2 linked regions of the Homo sapiens genome follow. The protein of the gene in region 2 interacts with the protein of the main gene of each other region in a biochemical or structural test. Each region holds a gene or a part of one and is shown on either strand. Other genes may lie near its edges.

Region 1 (7,104 bases), on a different chromosome or scaffold from region 2:
ATGAAAGCAAGAGGTCGTCAAACAGCATAAACTTATTCTTCATACAGGATCTTTCCATGGATACTTCCCAGTGTCCTGACATCATGTTTTTCGGTGACCTTGGAACATCACTATTGCCTGCCCTGGGCTTTGTGCTATGGCTTTATTTTTGCCCTATAATGCAACTTCCTCCTTTTTCTCACCTTGCCCAGTTAAGAGCCCTTGTGCAACAAAATAGGCAAAGTATGTGTGAAATACATTAAAGAACATTATGAGAATACTCTCTAGTTCAAGGACACTATTTTACTCCATGTGGTTTTAAAAATAATATTGTACTAGCTATCAAATAAGTCAAATTATATCTATTTATAATATGCTTATACTTTCTGAGAAATTTTCTCAGTATTCTAGTGGAATGTGAAGAATCTATGTACTTTTGACCTTCTTGGATAAAATATTTTTGAAATAAAATTAAAGATTTCATACATAAAATGTAATCTGTTCTTCTCAATATACATTTTTATTTACCATGTTAAGGAGGTAAAACATCTTATCGCTAAAGGTAATATCATATGCCAAAAACCATGAGCCAAACACCACAGTACCTCCTGTTGATCATTGCTAGCTGATTATCTGATCAGAGTTATACACATATTGTATGTAAATGTAGATTTTTATATAGTGTACACCCCATCATGTAAGCACGTCAGAAGCTCGTACGTTCATAAGTCTATTTCAAAAAGAGTTTTTGCTATTACAATACTTGAGGAAAGTAGTCAACATGAGCAACAGGTTCTCTAAGAACCTTAAAGTAAAACCCCATTATCATAAAAACATAGTACAACAAAGTTAGAAAGACGACTTCAGATAAAACAGGTGGAGCCTATTGTGACAATTAGTCAAGAAACAATGAAATAAAAAAAACTGTATCACAGAAGAAAACGTTGCTGACAACCCCATAAGTCCTGGATTAAAACAAGCTCTTTGCTCATAACATTGGTCTCTCAACATAGCGTGACATAATCAGACATATAATTATGCACTTCCCAGTAGAGATACGCATGTAAAAGCTACAATGAGCTTTTCCAAAATCAAAACTGACACAGCACCTTCTGATAGTCCCACCATTCATATTTAGTAAAGCCTCCCTGTATTATCTCACCCAGTTTCTTTTTAACTTCCACCACATTGATTATTCCAATAATTTTCTATCAAATCTGTTCTGAAAAGACTCAAACTTTATCAAAAGAGCAATCACTAAGAAAAATTATTTCAATCCTGTTTCAGAAAAGCTTCATTAGAATCATCTATCTTTAAAGAAAAAAAATCATCTGAAGAAAAATTAGCCTCTTTCAAGAAAAATAAAATAACCCTTTGAATTATTATTGTGATTGTTGCTTTCTTATACCATAGCATTATGTTAGATGCTGGGATACCAAACTGGTATACCAAGAATCTCCTTAATGTTCAAGGATTATTTACATTTAATATACATTAAATTCATACATACAAAATTACTATTTAAAGTTTAAATATTTTCGATTGTAGTGGATGAAAACAGAAAAAGTCACTGAACCCCCAAAGTAGCAAACTTTCACTTCTTTCCATCTTTTTCACGAGATATTCCTTTTGTAAACACATTGACATTAGAAACAGATGTTCTGATAGGTACCACCGCTTCCTTGTGATCTGAAAATTGAACCTCCTAAACAAGGAATTCATCAATAAAACCTGTGTCCGCCAAGCAAAAAGCCAGGGGGTTGGGTGTTGGCATGTTGGCTATATAGCACTTATAGGCGAGACAACTCTAAACTAAGGTACCTGAGCAGGTTCAGAATCTTTTTTCGTCAAACCCACAGAGCTCTATAATAGAAAACATTTTGATCTCAAAAATGTTTAGCAAGCAAATCTTTTCTGGAACTACTGAATAACAATAAGAATTGCCAGGAAAACGTGAGGCTCTCTAACTACATATTGGCCATGCCTCTGATTCCATTCACCTGTCACAAATCTCCAAAATCAGCGCTTCAGAAACCAGAGAAAAGAGCGAGAGTGAGTCTCCCTTAACTTTGCCATTTCCCTCACACCATTTGGGGATAAAACTTGGGCGTCTCTCTGCCTCGACTGGTCACTCCACTTCCTGGAGCTCCAGAAACTCCCTCAGCACCTGGATAACTGCGACACTCACCCGTGAGCGCAGGACCCTCCTGGCGTCTTAAGTCCCAGCTCTCAGTCCCGCTGGCCGCAGGAACACAATGACATCTCTCGCCCAGGAGGGCGGTTGCAGGGAACCGAAATCGGACACAACAGTTGCAGTGAACCCGACTCAGGGTTGAGCGCATCAGCGCTAAACCCAAGACAAAGGCTGCCCTGTGTCTTCCGTACTCAGCGCTCTCCTTTGGTAATCGGTCCCCGTCCCCTTCAAGCCCACACTAGGAGCGCGTGAGCCTGTGAAGTGGCTGTCATCGACTCCGCGCTTTCCGAGGGGTGCGGCTCCGTGACTAGTACCACGCCGGTGTAAACAGCGCGCCGCGCACTGGGGATCCGCCAGAAACGGCGCGCGCGCAGAGCGGGCGCTGGGGGCCAATAGTAGCAACTACCCCAGGCTGCGGGCTGGAGCCGCCTCCTCTCACCAGAGAGGCGCCTACTGGGCGAGCCCGCCGCCCGCAGGTTGGGTGGCAGCACCCGCCGCGAACCCCAGCCACGCTCCCCAGTGGACCCACCAGGCAAAGGCACCTGCTGCCTGCCCTCCAGGGCTGATGCTGTGCCAAGCCCCGCTCGGGATCAGGGACAAGCCGCCCAGGACTACCAGCCGGAGAGAAGGGGCTCCCAGTGAGGCTGATTGAATGAATGATGTTTGCAGTCACTTACCGGCGGAGGGTGAAGTAGCTCAGGCGGCCGCCAGGCTGCGTGCGGCCGGCATCCCGGGGCGCGGGCATTCTCCCATCCTTTGTCAGTTGCGGGTGGAGCGCTCCTCCCCAGCTAGCGGACGAGCAGCCGGGTGGCAGGCAGCCCGGCTCTGGCTCGGCTCCCCAGTCCTCTCCCCTCCTCTGCTCCCCCTCCCCTTCTCCGTCCCCCTCTCTGAGCCGGCATTCACTGGGCTCCCATGATGTCATCCAGTGGAAATCTGCCATGCTCAAAGACTGGAATAATCCAGCGCTCACGCGGGGAACGCAGAGCAGGCGGAGGAGGCAACAGAGCCTCTAGGAGTTCCCAGAACTAGCATCTCCAGGTTAACTGGAGTCAAGGACAGGACATAGGGGAGTCTGCGGAAAGCAGGCTCCGAGGGTGTATGTGGGCCGGGTGGGCGCGGTGGGGATGGGGCCGGGGATGAAGAGCCTCTTCTTTGCCGTAAAGATTCCTAAATCAGTACTTAAACTGATGGCAGATGCCAAGGATAAGGAGAAAGTTTTTTTCTGGCTGCTCAGTAGCTCAGGTGCCCCATCTCGGTGATGGACACCTACACTGCAGCCACGATAATAATTAGAACCCCTGGAACCCTCAGAGCCCTAGTCACAATGAGAAAGTTTAGGATGTCTGACCAATGACAGCTTAAATGATGAGCAGCTAAAGTGAGGGAGAAAGATGTGTACTGTTTACAGGCGGGAGTCTGAGGCAAAACATTAAACAACGAGGGGACCTCAACAATCTATGACATGAACACCGAAAAGACCGCTGGTCTGAGGCAAGAAGGCACCAGTAGCAATTCACTCCTAGCCTTAGTATTGACCTCCTGTCTTCCCACCATATACTAATGGACACTCGAGAAGCGACTCTCTTGTGGCCTCACCCAAAGACTGTCATCAATGATGAAACTATTTAAATCACAAGGTTTATTGAAACTCATAAAAGGTGCGATGCCAAATCTTTTGCTCAAGATTCTATATAACATCAATAGAAGTTTTATTAGAGGAATAGACAAACAGCCTGAGTATTTTTGAAGATTCCGCTCTTTTCATGGAAACAGGCAGATACACCAGATCTGAGACCCAGCCCTACAGCAATCTAGAGCAGCTTCATGTCAAAAACTCTCCTGTTCAGGGACCAGATTTCAACAGCTCATGGTTTGTGCTCTAATCAGTCCAAGCTTCAAGGAGGCTCTTGAGTTCCCAGGATTACCTACCACCTGTCATTCCTGGAAGAGACTAAGCTTGCAGAGAAAAGTACCAGCAGCCAGTGCTGATTAGGCAGTCTTCAGTGAGAGTGCTGGGTGGGAACGTGCAGCCTCTGCCGCTGCATTCATCACCATTATCCTTTACAAGTGTGAAGACTAAGAATAACATTTATTACAAGTGTAGATACGGTTAGAAACTCCTTAATCTTTGTAAATACAAAGAGGACTCAATAAAATAATAACAACAACAATTTAAAGGCTACTCACTATCAGATAGGCTTCTTATTGCATTGTGAAATTGTGAAATCCAATGGGACTTTTCTGAGGAAAAAGTAATAAGTATGAAAAAGCAGCATCAGAAATTATTTTAAAAAATAAACTATCAGTGTAATGGATAAAGAAAATAATGGCACATATACACAATGGAGTAATATTCAGCCATAAAAGAGAATAAGATCCTGTCATTTGCAACAACATGAAGGAACTGGAGGTCATTACCTTAAGTGAAATAAGCTGAGCACAAAAAAGACCGACTTTGCATGTTCTCACTCATTTGTGGGAGCTAAAAATTAAAACACCTGAACTCACAGAGATAGCGATTCAAGTGATGGTTACCAGAGGCTGTACAAAAATATAGATAGATAGAATGAAGAAGATCTAGTATTTGATAGCACAACAGTGACTACAGTCAACAACAATTTATTGTATATTTTCAAATAACTGAAAGTATAATTGAAATGCTTATAACACAAAGAAATGATAAATTCTTGAGGCAATGATACCCCATTTTCCCTGATGTGAATATTACACACGGTATGCCTGTATCAAAATATTTCATGTATCCTATAAATATATATACCCACTATGTACCTATAAAAATTAAAAACTAATAGAGTATAAAAAAATTGTGATGCATGTACTTTGTGAAATCTATGTGTTCACTTTTATTTTCAAATTAAAATATTTTAGGGATCACTAGTATTTATATCATTATATAATAAGTAAAAAATAACATATCAAATGATTGAACAAATGTTAGAAACAAATATTTTTAAATACCAAAATAATAAAGATTTTTTTCAATCGGGGCCAAATGGGAAGTAAACCAGGAGAAAAGGTAAAAATTTGGAAATGTAAGTAATGGCAGTCTTTGAGAATAGGAAAACAATCTAATGGCTTGAAAAAAGTAATTAGTACTGCTAATGACACTGTTCTAAGTGCATCAGAAGGTCAAGTTGTAAACCTTCCCTAGGAGATTGGTTCTTTAATGCCCTATCTATCTTCTTTGCCTCTGTTTATCTTCCAGTTCTTCAGCATTCTCTGGACTAATTCATAAGAATGGAGACAAGAAGAAGGTCATAGTTAGCAGATCTGGGGAATTTATAATAGTAGCCATAAAGATCGGAAAATGCATCCTTCAGCTTTTTTTCTTTTTCATCACTGCTCTAAGGAATTAAAGCAAAACCTAAATCTCTTACTTTAAAGAAAAAATGCATTCTTACATGATAATGTATTTATTTCTGTGAAAATATCTTCAGTATGTGATTTGGGACTTTTTTGGGAATTGAAAATACTGTGCTGTGGCAATCACTCAGGACCCTGAACTTAGCAAAGTGAATTTACTGTATCTCTACAATAACTTCTTTCCTAATGTGTCCCAACCTACTAACACCTTTGCCTGTGCCACTGACATTTTCCACTACTACTGCATGCTTTTTTATTTGTAATTCTTAAAACGTGGTGTTTGAATATTTTGAAATATTTTTATCCAAATGGATGCTATAAATAACTAAAACATCTAATTGTTACATGAGAAAATGTAAAAGTATCGTAAGTCTTAGCCAAAAAAAAGTCTGAAATCATATTTTGCAAACCTAACTTACATTTGAATCACATTTAAATGGTGAATATATTAAACCTTGGAATTGAAGATTTAGAGTAGATATATTATTTCTGCCTCAATTATTGATGCTCTACTGTACCATTTTCATACTGATACATGAGTCTCTTCACAAAAGCAGCAAGTGCTTTGGTGGGAAAAATAGACATATTTTAACATTTTTTATTTGTGAATTCCACAGAATATAAACTTTTTATACTCTGGTTTCATTTAAATTGATAGACTCATTTATAGCTACTGACTTTTATTTTTATTCTTATTTGTTATTTATTTATTTATTGAGACAGAGTCTTGCTCTGTCACCCAGGATGGAGTGCAGTGGTGTGATCTCAGCTCACCGCAACCTCTGCCTCCTGGGTTCAAGCAATTCTCCTGCCTCAGCCTCCCGAGTAGCTGGGATCACAGGCATGCGCCACCACACCCAGCTAATTTTTTTTTTTTTTTTTTTTTTGTATTTTTAGTAGAGACAGGGTTTCACCATGTCGGCCAGTCTGGTTTCAAACTCCTGACCTCAGGTGATCCGCCCACCTTGGCCTCCCAGAGTGCTGGGATTACAGGCCTGAGCCACTGTGCCCAACCTTGACTTTTAAAAACAAGTTTTCCTACATACAAATTTGTTAATTGTTGATACATAATACACAGAAATAATATCAGTAAGTCCTTATCATGTGCCAAATACTGTGCTAAGTTATTATATGTTACTCCATCTGCTCTTCAAATCACCCCATGATACAAGTGTATTAACCTCTCTTGAAGATGAGGAAACAGAGACATACAGAGGTTACAAAAATCGTCCAGGCAACTAAACTAGTAACAAATCAAATTAAAATTTGAGTATATCAGCCTAAACATATAAAGTGTGTCCTCATAACAGCATACTTGCAAATTTTAGGTATTTTTTCCACTGAAAAAAATGAAATATGAAAAAATAAAATGTTATATACATGCATACATTATATATACATATATATACACACATATATATATTCTATTTGATGAAGTAAATAATATGATTTTGTGAACTTTTCCATCAGTTAACAAATTCATCACTAATTTTATTTCCATTATCCCTGCAAATGAAATGCTTTCAAAGTTATTTATGAAGAAAAAG
Region 2 (8,213 bases):
TATCAACCATTGCTATTTTATCATATGTTATCTTGTATTATTCCACAACTATATAGGTTTGTATGTGCATATGTAGCATATGTATAGACGCATAATTGCCTCCAAGAGCATAATCCTTTTGAGACAGACATTGTACTTTTGGTGAGAATTGAATTAAGTGAATAAATGCAAACTCCTGCAACCACATCTTCCCCCAACTTTTCACAAAGCTAGCCATAAGGAAAAAAATGCAAAGCAAGACAGCAGAAACAACCAAAACTACGTCTTCTACAGGACTCTCAAGTACTGAGAGAATAACTGAGTTCAGTATTTGTCTCCTATTGCCTTAGAGGAGGACATGGCAAATTTTCACGGGCCATGTTTCCTGCAGCTTTCATGGGAATGTTTATAGAGAAAGGAAGTGCGTTAAAGAAAGCAAAAATAGGGAGTGGAAGGTGATAGTCTGCATCTGTGTTGTCACTTTCAGGCTAACTTTGTTGCCAACCCTTGCACTTAAATGCTTGCACACCTTTAGGAAGTTTTAGTGGGTGATAGCTATGAAAATGCAAGCTATTGTTTTTGGTAATAACCCGATATTATTATGCCATCATTTAGCGCTCATTAAAGTAAACCAGAAAAGTTATATTGGGAAAACAACTTTTTCTGTACCTTAAAGTGTGCTACGTCTGAGCAATTTATATGGTTCAATGTACAAGTTTTCCTTTTCTAAGCTGTTTTTCTTTATTTTCCAAATTCAATGTGCCAAGCAGATGACTGATTTTGGAAGCAATAACAATGCATTACACTGCATTGTACAAGATTCTCAAAATAATATTTTTGAGGAGTCAGTGGTCAAAATAGACATCAATTTAGATACACAAAAGCAATGGAAATTTAAAAGATTGACATTTATATTTCAGGAAATGTATACATTTTATATGTTTATATTTTTATTCACATTTTATACTTCATATTTTTACCCCAGAGGCAATAATACAATCTTTTATATATTTTCCTAAAATCATCAAACATTATATCTGCTCTCCATGTTTCCATTGGCTTTGTTAATGTTTATCAATGTAACACTCCCCTTTCTGGTTTTCATTATTTTCATCTAATTTTCATTACAGTCACATAACAAGAGAAAGGAAAAACTAGTATTTGGCTTTGAAATAACAGGTTTTAATTCCCTCTTAAGCACAGATTTCCATATTAAAAATATCTAAATTTTTAGAATCAATAGGTGAACTCCAACTAAACATTCTCTTATTAATATCAAGTTTATTTTAATCTTTTAGTCAGTGAATAATGATTTGTTTTTTTAAGTAAACCTGAAATTTAATTTTGAATGGTTTGAAAAAAATAGATTGACTTCTACATATTAATTTTTGCAAAAACTACTTTACTTTTGAATAATTTATACAGAACACTTTTATAATGATGAATTTGATTTAGACAGACTCTAGCTCTTTTTCAGTGTGCATTTAGCACTTATTTTCTCTATAAGTGAGGACAGCAAATAATATTTTAACAAGCATATAATCAGACATCTACAATTCAAAGGCTTCTGTCTAGTGCTAGCTACCTAAAATAACCTATTACCAAAGCCTTTCTTTACAATGTACTAGAATAATCTTTTTTCTTCTTCTTAATTCTGTTACATAAATTTATTAGGAGCTCACCAATATCCTTCCTTTTCAGTCTTCCAGCAAACATAAATGTAGGTGAGAAAAAAAGAATGAGTTAATTCTTTTTTTTCTTATGCTGAATTTTAATATCTTTTAAAACCAATAAATATTTGTCCCCACATTTTTCATCTAAGAAAGTACATAGGTTAAAGGACTGGAGTGAATTCTTTTCATGCAAATTTCTGTGATGGTAGACATATAGATTGCTGGGAAAAGTCGGCCACTACTGCTCACTGTTTATGTGAAAGTTCCCAAAACCCCACCTTGAATCACAGCAGAAAGTCTGAATTGTACACTGAGAGGATTAAAAACTTGTTCTGGCCATATAAACAGATCTGTCCATATATACTATTTTCTTCATTAAAGTGTTTTTCTGAATTTAATTTAAATTGCCTCCTTTAATATAAAAATTTCCCTGAACCCAAGAGTACATGTCAACTCCCCATGTGAGCCCATCTTCTTTGTACCTCTAACCTGGAGCAACTGAGTTTTGACCTCAGCACAGTCCCATTGTCAACATCAGGGAACACTGGACTGTTAGCTGTGGCTGGACTCAGACAAAAAATTCTCCAAAAAATACTTTTGTATTGTTCTTTCCCCCCAACCCCTGTGATAGGATTCCATTGAATGTTACACGTGATGTTATTTCCACTTAATCTTTTCTACTATAGTTTTCTCAAATTTCATATTATTCCATGTTTTATTTGTTATACTCTAAAGTCATTCATTTATTTTACCTGTGTTATTGCACTTTAAATTCACTCATTTAAGTACAGATGTTATTAGGATTCACTTTGGAAATTAAAGCATATAACATTCACAACATAAGTGAAAATAGCCTCTATGGAAAATCTCAGTTTCATAAAATAAAATATATAATCTATAACCTTCAAACAAATGAAAGTTAATTTTTCCAACAAAATCTACATGCCATATTCTAAGCAGGAATTACCTCCACCTTATGTTTTTTATTTTTATCCTCACTATTTCCTAATTATATTTTGTAACACCAGCCAAAATCTGTACTTAATACCCAGATTCTTCTTGAATATCTTCATAGAACACTATAAAGACAAATAAATATATAAGTATATATTTATATCTATAAATATATTTCTGCTAATAAACGTATGAAATAGATTTCTGTTAATAAACATGAAAACTTTAAGTAATCACATTATAGTAAACAAAATGTCTCAGAGATTTTCACTGTTTTAATAATCACGCAGTGCATTTCTTACATCCTAATTTTAAATTTTAAACAGTAAAAGAAAATACCTTACCCCAAAAGTTTTCTGGCCATGGACTCCCTAAACTTGTTGTGTTATTAGCCATAATATCCACAAGAAATAGAAGAAAGAGAAGAAAAACAGAAAGAAAAACCAGTATGTCGAAAAAAAGCAGTTTGATTCTATCTCTTTGTAGTACAGCAAGAGAAAAATAATTTTTACACAACCCCTCATATACTTGTGTTCGCATAAAAGGAAATAAGTGTATCATGTTTCCTGCTTTTATACTCAAATTAGCAACTGTTTTTCTTATCTTGGAATTCCACATGGTTCCTGAGACACAAAACAATGTCCTTTTCATCATTTCCTCAGCTAAGTTCCTAAGTTCTCTCCTCTCAGCCACCTCCAAAACTGCTTTTAGGATAACAGGGTTGTGTGTGTGTGTGTGTGTTTGTGTGTGTGTGTGTGTGTGTTTCCTCATCCCCTACTGACATGGAAAGGAAGACTCCAAACTCTCAGCTACAGCACCTTGAATTAAATGTATACAGAATTGAGAAATAGACCACGTTCCAATGCTTGAAAATTAAATTTATATAGTAAATTGGGGGAAAGGACTATTCAAAACTCAGATACTTACTAAATTCTTTGTTGTTGTTGTTGTTGTTGTTTTTGAGACTTAGTCTCGCTCTGTCGCCCAGGCTGGAGTGCAGTGGTACGATCTCGGCTCACTGCAACCTGCCCCTCCCAGGTTCAAGCGATTCTCCTGCCTCAGCCTCCAGAGTAGCTGGGATTACAGGCGCGTGCCACCACACCCGGCTAATTTTTGTATTTTTACTAGAGATGGAGTTCCACCATGTTGGCCAGGCTGGTCATGAACTAGGCCTGACCTCAAGTGATCCACCTGCTTTGGCCTCCCAAAGTGCTGGGATTACAGCCATGCGCCACTGCGCTCGGCCACTATATTCTTAACATGTCTGTTTCTCTATTTGGTATACAAATTTTGAAAGTTATTTAATTCATTTCATAAATATCTAAGTGTAATTTATATAAAATTTGTGTTACTCTTTACTTAGTATTTAGTATGAAAAAACAGTTTCTACATTGAAGAAATATATTTAAAATCAAGGAGGGAAAACATAAATGCAAAATTTTTCATTACAAAGTTTGTTAAGTGCTATAACAAAGGGTACAACGATCTCAGGAATTTGTTTTTTATAGAGAAGTTTGAGAACTGATATAGGAAAGAGTTACATGAAACATTTTGAGAAACACAAGTTAGTTAACATTTCAAGAGTCTTTCCTCAAGCTTTGCTTGTTTAGACTGGATCCTCTGAGGACTTTGGAGGCACTGGAAATTGTGAATAACGTGTCAAACTGCACCTAGTAACTGCGCTAAACTGCATTCCATGATCTGGCTTCATCAATCTTTGAGTAACTCTAGCCTGAACTCTTGCATATATCTTGTATTAATCATATTCTAACTTATTAGTCATTAGAATATGACTTAGTGCAAAGTAGTATTCCTCTTTGTGAAGTCTGTAATATATTCCTGAGTAGTTCTAAGAAAACAACAAAAAAAGACAGTTATATTAATTTTTGCAGTCCTGCTTCTTCCAAAATGAGGTTGTTTCTGATCAGTCTCATTTTTTTGTGAATTTAAGTATAAATTTATTAGAAATTAAAATATAAATCATCTAAGAGAATTATAAAACGTCATAGAAAATTTAGAGAATTCACTGAGCAAATATAAAGACTCACCTCTATAATATTCTTGCTAAAGTTTATTTTCAAATAATCCAGTAAATAAAAGCTCCTACTATTACTTAACAGACAAAAAGGGCTTACATTTCAACAGTTGTCTTTACTTTTCAATATTGTTAACAAAGTTCATAAAAATAGAAAATTAAAAGAACATGTTATTTCTGAAGAAAATGTAATCTGGATGAAAGTATATTGAAATACTAATCACTTTACTGTTCTAAAAGCATCGAGTACGATTCTTAATTACTAAATGTATTTTTAAATACACATTTTGCATTATTAAAGGTTACCTGATTGCAATAAATCCTAATTTCAAAGGTGTATATAATTTCCTAAACACTGCATAGATTGCATTTTCCTTAAAATAAACCAAAATGAGTGGAATGGGTAACTGACATTGTCTCAACTGCCTTCTGTGCAGAAACAGAGCTCATTCCATTTCAGGGCTGGGATACAGGCTGACACTTCCTTTCATTGTTCTATGTTGAACTATGCAGATTTTCTCCCAATGGGTTTTCATTTTTGCAGATGGCCACAACCCAGTCAAAACTCTAAAGAAAATGTGTTTCTTAAATCAGTTTATGACCTAGGAATAGCTTGCTTGTGGACAGCACTGGCTCTTGTCTGTGTATGTAATTTGCTTGGTAAGGGTTCATACCTTTCCCTGGCATGGATCTATCTAAGTGAATGTTTATGTCTACGTGATTTTTGAGTCCCATGACTTGTCATGCCACAACAGGAACTTGATTTTTATCTTTACAAAACTGTTAGGTTTGCTTTTCTACTGCTCATTATTTCATAACCTGGGTCTTTAGGTCTGGGTTCTCCAGTGGTCATAAAGTACATTGAGAAGTTTGTTCTTGCCTCAGATATTCACATGACTTCCTCACTCTCCTCATTCACGTCTCTGGCCAGAAGTCACTCTTCAACAGGCACTCGCTAACCACCCTGTCTAAAGTGTTCCCACTTAAACCATGCTCTGTCTCCTGACCCTATGTTATTTATCATACCCTGACATTATGCTATATATGTGTCTTAGTCTGTTCCAGCTGCTATAACAAAATATCCTAAACTGGGTGGCTTTAAAACAACAGAAATTTATTTCTCAATTCTAGAGGCTGGGAAGTTTAAGATCAAGGGGTTGGCAGGTCAGTGTCTGTTGAGGGCTCGCTGTCTCGTTGACAGTCATCTTCTCGTTGTGATCCCACACTGTGCAAGGAGTGAAGGGTCACTTTCAGCCTCTTTTATAAGGACACTAATCCCATTCATGAGGGTTGGATAACCCAAATCACTCCCAAAGTTCCCACCTCTTCCTACCATCACCTTGGCGGGGAGGATTTCAACATATTAATTTTGGGGGAACGTAAGCATTCAGGGTACATAAAAATGCTTTGCTTTTTTGGTTGTGTTTTGTCTCTTCCACCAGCAATAAGTTTCATGAGGATAGGAGCTTTATTGATTTTGTTCACAAACTGAACTCCAGTGGCTGAAATAGTGCCTGGCATGCAATAGGCTCTTCATAAATATTTATTAAATAGGGAAATGAAATAATTTGAAGGGATCTCAAGATGAAAGTATTTTGGACACTCCAAGTTAATAAAAGTGTCACTGGACCCTAAAAAACAAGTTAAAAATCTCTATTCACATGCATTTTAATAGTTTTACATTTTAACTTATAACAATATCAAATGATACAAAAGAACATCATCACATTTAAGAGAAGGTACATATTTGACATTGAATTTCCTTTTTTAGCTTTATATTTTAAAACTATAATAGGTTTTATCTTCCCAATATTAAATTGACCCAAACAGTTTCAGTAAACTGGGAGTACTGTCAAAACCTATAAGAACTCCCCACAAAAAATTAAAATTTTAAATCTGTTTTTTAATTCAAGTTTTTAGAAAGTAACTAGGAGGATGACTAAAAATATGAACATGTCATTTTAACAGAGTTATGCCTTTTTTCTTCTTTGTTTACATGGTATAAATGTTGGTCTTCTTTTTCTTTCTCTTTAAATTCATTCACTTTGGTAGGGAGAATGACAAAATTAAAAATAGAGGTGATGATGACAACATTAAAATAGAGGTCAGGTGAAAATCTAGCTGTTAAGTTTTAAGATTTTACAAACTACAGTGGAAGTAAAGATAATTTCCCAAGGTCAGTGTCATTAATTTTTTTCTCAGTAAATAAGTCTTCATGAATGTCTGATTGTGGCTATGGAAAGTGATGATCAGATCTGAGAGGGAAATTGACTTAAATCTGAACAATGAGAGTCAGAGCTAGAGGCACAGGGAGAAAGTGCTGAAATCAGTTCTGATAGTTTTTTGGCTGAGTCTTCAGGGTTTTCTACATATACGGCTAAATCATCTGCAAATAAAAATATTTTTACTTCTTCTTTTCTGATGTGTATGCTTTGATTACATTTTCTTCTCTAGTCTCTGGCTAGACGTCCAGTACTACGTTAAATAGAGGTGGAAAAGTGGGCATTCTTGCCTTGTTCCCGGTCTTAAAGGAAAAGTTTTAAGTTTTTTTCCCATTGATTATTATGTTAGCTGTGGGCTTTTCATATATGGCTTTTATTATTCTTTCTATATCTGTTTCTCTGAGGGGCTTTATCATGAATTCATGTTGAATTTTCTCAAATGCTTTTTCTTCATCTATTGAGAAAATCGTGTATGGTTTTTAAGCTTCATTTTCTTAATGCAATGTGTCACATTGATTAATTTTCATATGTTGAATTCTCTTTCATCCCAGAGATAAATCCCACTTGATCATGGTGTATAATCCCTTTAATGCACTCTTGAATTTGGTTTGCTAGCATTTACTGAGGATTTTTGCATGTATTTTCACCAGGGATATTGGCCTATATTTTTCTTTTTTTTGTGGTAGGTTTGTCTGGCTTTGGTATTAGGGTGGTGGCCTCATAAAATGAGTTTAGAAGCATTCCCTCTCTTCTGTTTTTTTGTGAGAATGTAGGACAATTGTTATTCTTTGAATGTTTGAAATCAGTACATTTGCAGGCTACAAAATCAACATACAAAAATCAATGGTATTCTATACACAATGAAAAATCTGAAAAGGAAATTAAGAAAACAATTCCATTTACAATAGCATTAAAAAGAATAAAATACTTAGGAATAAACTTAACTAAAGAGGTGAAACATTTTTACACTGAAAATTATAACATTCTGATGAAGGAAATTAAAGAAAACCCAGGTAAATGAAAAGACATGCCAATGTCATCATTTGGAATTATTAATATTGTTACAATGCTCACTTGCCCAAAGTGATCTAAAGACTCAATGCAATCCCTATCAATATCTTAATGGTATTTGTTACAGAAATAGAAAAAAAATCTTAAGATTTATATGGAATCACAGAAGACCCTGTATAGCCAAAACAATCTTAAGCAAGAAGAACAAAGCTGAAGGCATTCCAGTACCTGATTTCAAAATATACTACAAAGAAACAGTAATCAAATCAGTATGGAATTAACATAAATACAGAAAAACAGACCAAAAGAAGATAATAGAGAGCCCAGCAATAAATCTAT

The links. The genes of interacting proteins can lie anywhere in the genome.
Region 1: the proteins of MYCT1 (region 2) and MARCHF1 form a complex in vitro, tested with the Homo sapiens proteins (one study listed by BioGRID).

The regions. Positions count from the first base shown.
Region 1 is NC_000004.12:164,381,020-164,388,123, forward strand, and holds the start of MARCHF1 (E3 ubiquitin-protein ligase MARCHF1), read right to left. Parts: upstream 3,001-7,104; 5' UTR 2,851-3,000; exon of another isoform or gene 2,168-2,850; intron 1-2,167. UniProt on the Homo sapiens protein: E3 ubiquitin-protein ligase that mediates ubiquitination of TFRC, CD86, FAS and MHC class II proteins, such as HLA-DR alpha and beta, and promotes their subsequent endocytosis and sorting to lysosomes via multivesicular bodies.
Region 2 is NC_000006.12:152,692,836-152,701,048, reverse strand, and holds the start of MYCT1 (myc target protein 1), read right to left. Parts: upstream 3,153-8,213; 5' UTR 3,147-3,152; coding exon 2,951-3,146; intron 1-2,950. UniProt on the Homo sapiens protein: May regulate certain MYC target genes, MYC seems to be a direct upstream transcriptional activator. Does not seem to significantly affect growth cell capacity.